Homo sapiens: one gene and its partner. The protein of the gene in region 2 interacts with the protein of the main gene of each other region in a pairwise test. Each region holds a gene or a part of one and is shown on either strand. Other genes may lie near its edges.

Region 1 (3,654 bases), on a different chromosome or scaffold from region 2:
AGAATCTTCCCTGGAGAGAAGTATGGTGCCACTCATCCCAGAGCAGTTCTCATCTCTCCAGGATCCTTCAGGTTACTGGAACTGGGACCTGGCCAATCAGGGGCATTTGGTGAGAGCAGGGCTCACCCCAGGTAGAATATACCACACTCTGTCTTGCCTTGACCTCATTCAGATACATCTTAGTAAAGCATAAATCATTACGGTATATTTTTAAAACAAGACCAAAGGGCTTAGTGAGACATATTTTACCTGGCATCATGCCCTCAGTGGGCCATTTCTTCACTACCTAATGCTTTTATAACCACTTTCTTAACCGAAGAAAACAACACAAAAGCCCCACATTCTTTACAAAATCCCTTTGGTAGGCAAAGCTCTTGCCTTTGGCCTCAACCTGGCTTCTCAGTAACTGTCAAGCTCTTGCCCACTTCCAGCTACCCCGCCCCAAGTTCCTGGGCACTTGGCCTCCTGTCACCGACTCTCTCTGACTCTGGCTCTAAGAAAGACAGTCCCCATCACATGTATCCACTCACTTGTAGAAGGCTTGGTTCTCGATTCCACATTTCCAGAGGTGCTTACACGCTTCAGGAGTTGGAGCAAAATATGTAAGAATAATTTTCTTTTCCTGCAAAAAATTCCACATTGATATGGCTGAGTGTGGATGGAGAAGCAAAGGGTGAAGTAGGCGAGGACCCTGACCCCAGAGCTGTTAGAGGCCCTGGCAGCTGGCTAGTTAGAGGGGAGGGCCTGTGGGACCCACTGAGGCAGAGCTCAGTTAAGTGCATCACATCATACTTGGCAAGTCCAATCAGGGTAAGTCTCAGCTGGCACAAAAGTGGCACAAATTGAACCAGGAGAGCTCTTGGTGAGAAAGTTGCCCTTGCCTCTGGAATTCCCATATACACGAAAGAAAAAGAGCCTTCCTTTGCATTTCCTGGAGGTAAAGATCTCTTGAGTGGAAGCTCTGGGTGTCAATAGCATCCCTGAGGAAGTCCTGTGCTCCAGGGCCTTCCCGCTCCTTCATATTGTACCTCCAGGTCCTGACCTTGGTCTTGGCTTAGTATGTGGGTAGCTTGGCTCTACTGGGGTCCCTCAAGCTTGGCTCTGGCCACCAGGAAGCATCCCATCACCCCAGCCCTCCTTGAAGAGAAGGAAGCCAGCACTCACCTCTTTCTGACTTACGTATAAATAGAAAGTCTTTCCTTCAAATTTCAGCTTGGTCACCTCATTCCTAGAAGCACAAAGATAGTGCCTGTCACCTCATTGTGGGCTGCTTGTTCACAGCTAAATCTTGTAGATGCACAGCCCACCCCAACTGGAAGGGGCTCCAGGCACAGACACAATTTTAGCCAAAATCAGAACTGAAACAAGACAGCAGCGCAGTGGCCTTAGAGAATGTTGTTGAAACAGTTCAATCCACAGTTTTCTGGTCAATCACACTATAGTAATAGGGTGACAGGAGGATTTCGGGCTTATCAACAGTGGCTGTAAAAGGGAAACATTTGCATGGAAAGTGAGTCTAGGTAGAGTATCTGGGGTCATTTCAGGATTGGGTTCATAACACAGGTGCATTATCTGGATGGGACTGTCAAACGTAAGATGCCACAGGTAGCTGATGAGGCCAAAGTTCAAGATACAGCAAATAATGAGAAACAATGCAACCAGGTTCTGAGGGAGTTGAGTCTTTCAGGTGACTGTGCCACTGGATGGAAAATGCAGTTTAATGCAGACAAATATCAAACAATCTCAGGGAGCGGGGCAGGGCAACATACCAAAGAGAGAGAACAGATTACATGGAACAGTCATGCAGCGTACTGACCAGGAAAGGGGCTTAGGGGTTATTGTAGAAAAATCCTTGAAGCCACCAGCCCAGTGAATGGCTGCAGTAAAAGAGGCAAACAGGATACTGGGGTACATCACCCGTGGGACAGACACAAATCAGAAGAAGTGACATGGTTACTGTACATGGCACGGCCTAGACCTCACCTCCACATCCACCTCCTGCTCTCAGCCTTGGTTACATTTGCAAAACGGAAAAACTACTGGGTCTTAGGTGAATGTCCCTGAGAGCCATGGAACTAGGCCTCAGCACTGGTTGCTCCTCACTTCCCTTCTATCTGCCCAACATAGCTGCCCTCTGGAGTCTCTCAGCCCTCTCCATGTCACTGGAGGCCCCATTTTTCAACCCAACTGGGACCCCCAAGGCGGTCTTGTCATGCACATTCACCTCCACTTGGCTGCTGCTTTTTTTTGTAATTTCTAAGGAGATTTCCTTCATCTCCTAGGAAATAGTAGAAAGGTAGCGAGAATCATGTACCCAACTTACTGCTGGAAAAAGTTCAGGGGACAGAGGAAAATCACTTGTTCTCCATGCTCCTGAAAATCATGGCTGGGTCAGGATGAGATTTCACAACTTCTGACCACCAGTTCTGAGCTAACACAAGTCACACGGTATTCCTTCCCTGTTTGATTCCCTCTCAAACTCCCTCTCAATCAACCATCAATCTCATACACACACAGTACAATAATGCCAATTGGTTAATATATAGACAAGCACACAGATCACCTAGGTTCCAACAAGCAAGCTAGGAAAGTAAGGAGTTTTATTTTGAGAGTGAGATTGGGTTTACATCTATTATTACAGAGTTGACACATGGTGAAGAGGAGACTTCTAGAAGAAGTGGTGCATGAGAGAAGCCGTGGAAAGAAAAGTGTCTGTGAGAACCAAGAGCCATCATGGTTTCTGGAAGGGTGGGTATAATTTAGGGACTGCAGGTGTCTGTGACAGGTGTGTCCTACTTGTTTCTAGCCAAACATTCCCTCTAACAGGGACCTCACCCAACAGCTACTCTGGTTGGAATGTGGATCTGGGCCCTCTAAAGAATATCAAATAGCCCAGATGTATCCAGGCAGCAGAGACCCCACACTAGGAGGGCTGAGGCCTGATCCTGCTCATTGCCTTTTTCTGAAAAGCATTTTGTTGGACAGGAGATTGCAAATCCTCACATCTTCACCCAGAGAGCACAGTGAAGTGGGCCGACTTGAGGATGCCTAGGAAACAGGTATGTTGGGGTGTATTCTGGTAACTCCAGGGCAGCAGCTGCCTTGTGGCACGGCTGTTGTCCTGGGGAGTCGAGTTTCCTGTCCTGTGTGAGGAGCAGTTTCACCAGCACTCTGGCTGACGATCGTAATGCCCTCCTTCACAAAATCAAGGTGGGCTGGAAAGGCGGTATCTGTCCTCAAGCTCAAACTCAGTGGGGGAGCTGAAGAGGGCACAGCGGGATAGATGGTCTGCAGTGTCCCCAGCAGAACGCTGACTAGGAAGCAACTGTACTCAAGATTCCTCATGAGCTCTCCTGGAGAAGACAAACCAAACAGACTTCCCCCCACTGAGCTCTGCTGGACCAAGGGAAGCCACTTATCTAAGCCCCTAGAAGGAGCTGGCCAGCTTAGACTTGGCAGTCTGAGGCCCAGGAAGGTACAGAAATCACAAGAGCTTAGTAGAATATGCAAAATGTTTTGATGACGCTGACAGATGTTTGTATGGGCTGGCCAGCTAAAGGGTCTCCAGGAAAGCCAAATGTCAATCAACAAACCAGAGTCTGCCCAGAGGCATGCAGCAGAACAGACCCCAAATAAAACAGAGAGGGGCAGGAG
Region 2 (3,273 bases):
CAGCAATAGCCCAGGGTTGGCATGAGGCTTGCAGAAGAGATGGAGTCTGTAGGTTCTTGATGGTCCCTGCCTTGGAGATGAGGAGAGCAAGGTTTCTTAATCCCAGTTTTAGGAGACCTTCACTTACTCAAGGGTCCTTTGCCAGGTGGCATGTGCCAATGTTGCTGGCCTTCTTTGCTTCAAAAATAGCCATTAGGAATAAGGGAAGAGCTCACACTTTCCCCTCTCTAAAAGAAAATAAAAGTCCCTTCCCCATCAGGAAAAAAATCTTGATTAAGAATCGTCAGTTTATCAGACTGCTGGACATTGCATATACAGCATGTAACTTCCAATTCTTCCCACGGCTTCTAGTGAAGATTCCTATTCTCTCCATCCCTCCCCTCCACAAAAGGCCAGGAGTTCCAGGGAAAACTGGCAAAAAGAACTAATCTGCAGCAGTTTCTCAAAATATGCAAATAATTGAGTCAGGTTTCTTGGGAGAAAAATGGAGGGAATGGGGGAGGGGGAGGCGTTGAGACAATTAAACTTCACAGGAAGAAGTTGGGAGTTGATGGAAAGAAGGCAGCCACTTAGGGCTGTAAGGGCAGGAGGCAGCCTGGCAGTTGGCACAATAGTCCAGCGAAGAAAAAGGAAAATCATCAGTCAATTTCACCACCAAAAAATAAAAGTACATATAAGCCCAGATGGAACGGAGATAGTGGTGCTAAATCTTCTGCTGTGGAGAAAAAAGAGAAAGAGAGAATGTTAATGGGGTTGGGATTAAGGAGACCCCCCCCAAAAAAGTTGAGCAAATCTGGAGAAAGGAAAGCAGCACATAACGGAGAATCAGATCACCAGCTGCATGTCCCAGACTCGTAAGAGGTAATAATCACAAAAGCAGAACCCCTCGAGCCCCATGTGGCTGAGACTACTTAGTCTCTGGCCTGATCAGATTAGCGTGATTGACAAGTTGCTGGCACTCAGGAGCCTCCTTCCTCAAGAACAATCTTGGGGGTGACTGAAGGACATACCATGGAGGGGTAAGACACTTGGCCCCCCTCATCATCCAAAACCAACACATCCAACTCTTCCTCCAGAGATTCCTGCCCCTCGTCCTGCTGTGAACACATGCAATTTGTTAGTATGAGTAGAGACAGGAACCTCATGAGTGTGTGCCAGAGCTAGGGAAACTCTGAAAATTTGTAAACTCAAACAAAACAAGATATAATAGTAAGAGAAGGGCAAAACATTCATAAACAGGGAGGGAGAGGAAAAAGGTAATGTTTGAAAGTAGATCAGTTAGTGTTAGTCATATCAGTAACACTTTTACAGACATGCTTCCCCCATTTTGACCACTGCAGAATAACGGCCCAAGAAATCCCAACATGAGTCAGAACTCTTACTTTTTCCTGAAAACCCCTACCAGAAAAGGATGCGATCTTTCTCTGTACTTTTTTTTGTGTTTCACAAAACACATAGGCTTCAAAATAGAACTAGCCTTAGACAGATAGCAGTATATAAAGAGAATTTACCATCAAGGGTGTTGTTCCCTTCAATGGCTCCATGTCGCCTAGATCCCCCGATCGATCCAGTGTTCTATTGTGGTCTCCTCTCTCATTTGGTGTGGAATAGTTGTTATCTGGTTAAAAAAAAAAAAGTACACAGAAATATGACATTCCCCTCTAGTGTAAAACGTATATCAAACAGATAGGTGTAATTAGGCATCACTGTTGGGAACTGAGCTTGTCAAATGCTCCACAAAGGCATTAAAGTCTGATGGTCCCCGACTTAAAGAACTTGAATCTGGCTGACCGTGGTGGCTCATGCCTGTAATCCCAGCACTTTGGGAAGCTGAGACGGGCAGATCACTTAAGGCCAGGAGTTCAAGATCAGCCTAGCCAACATGGTGAAACCCCATCTCTACTAAAAATATAAGAATAAGCCAGGTGTGATGGTGTACACTTGTAGTCCCAGCTACTCGGGAGGCTGAGGTATGAGAATCACGCCACTGCACTCCAGCCCAGGTGAACGAGTGAGACTCTGTCTCAAAAAAAGAACTTGAATCTAAGATGGAAGACAATATGTATAAAATACCCAGAATATGACATAATAAAGCTAAACAAGAGGTTTGTCTGAAAAGGTTATGGGAATTAAAAGAAGAGCGAGTGAAATATGCTGCAATCGTTAGGAAGGACCTGACAAGGGAAAACAGGACTTGAGTTAAGCCTTTGGAGATAAAGAGAATTTAGAAAGACAAAAGGGAAGGACATACCAGTAAGAGGTATTACATGAGCAGAATCAAACTATAGAGTGAATAGATAGAATAGCAAGCAGAATAGTTGGGCAGAAACAGATGTATCCATTCACTCCAGAGAAGGAGACTGGGGTAGGAATATAATGGGCTACAAACTTGAATGTGTAGTAATAGGAGAGGCATAGAAAGATTTCTGAAAACCTTTGAGCATGTAGGAATGTAGAAAAAGTAGACGGATCAGATTTTATTAAATTTCCTTACATCCTTCAAAATGGAAATGATCAGCCAATGCTCTCCCAGGATGGTAAATGGTAAGGGTATTAGAAAAAAAACTATAGAGCTAGACAGCTCTCCTTAGCCAGTGAAATATTACTCCACATCCTTAGGCAGGAATTAATCACCTACCTAGTGATTTTGTGTTTGATCCCATATTGCTCATCTGAATTTCTTCCCGATCAGGTTTCTTATCTGTATGAAGTCAGAAAGTTATCCATGTCAAAAACAATTCTTCAAAATCTGTACACATCATGAAAATTGCTCTCTGGTCCTCCTTCCTTCCCTTCATTCACACTTCTACTTAGCACCAACTATGTGCATCACAATGCCTGGATAATTTTTAAGCTTTTTGTAGAGATGAGGTCTCACTATGTTGCTCAGGCTGGTCTGAAACTCCTGGGCTCAAGTGATTCTCCCACCTCAGTCTCCCAAAGTACTGGGATTACAGGTGTGAGCCATCACACCTGGCCCCTACAGACTCTTAAATCAAAAAACAATTCCATCTAAACTAGCAGTTTTCAAATTATTTGGTCTCAAGGCCGTTTTACAGTCTTAAAAATTATAAGGATCTAAAGAACCTTCATTGGTGTGAGTTTTATGTATTAATTGTTACCATACTGACAAGTTTAAAGTATCTATTTCACTTAATGGTAAACTTCTTACATGTTATCATAAATAATCTTTAATAACATCCTTTTCATTTTTGTATATCTCTTTGAAATTTGGCTTAGATTCTCATACCTGCTTCTGCATTCAATCTTTTG

The links. Proteins that work in one complex are often made in the same cells at the same time.
Region 1: the proteins of CTNND1 (region 2) and FRMD5 interact in binary tests that used the Homo sapiens proteins (3 or more experiments, as listed by UniProt).

The regions. Positions count from the first base shown.
Region 1 is NC_000015.10:43,887,645-43,891,298, forward strand, and holds part of FRMD5 (FERM domain-containing protein 5), read right to left. Parts: intron 1,229-3,654; coding exon 1,165-1,228; intron 623-1,164; coding exon 531-622; intron 1-530. UniProt on the Homo sapiens protein: May be involved in regulation of cell migration. May regulate cell-matrix interactions via its interaction with ITGB5 and modifying ITGB5 cytoplasmic tail interactions such as with FERMT2 and TLN1.
Region 2 is NC_000011.10:57,813,739-57,817,011, reverse strand, and holds part of CTNND1 (catenin delta-1), read right to left. Parts: intron 2,702-3,273; coding exon 2,639-2,701; intron 1,619-2,638; coding exon 1,512-1,618; intron 1,098-1,511; coding exon 1,011-1,097; intron 716-1,010; coding exon 704-715; 3' UTR 1-703. UniProt on the Homo sapiens protein: Key regulator of cell-cell adhesion that associates with and regulates the cell adhesion properties of both C-, E- and N-cadherins, being critical for their surface stability.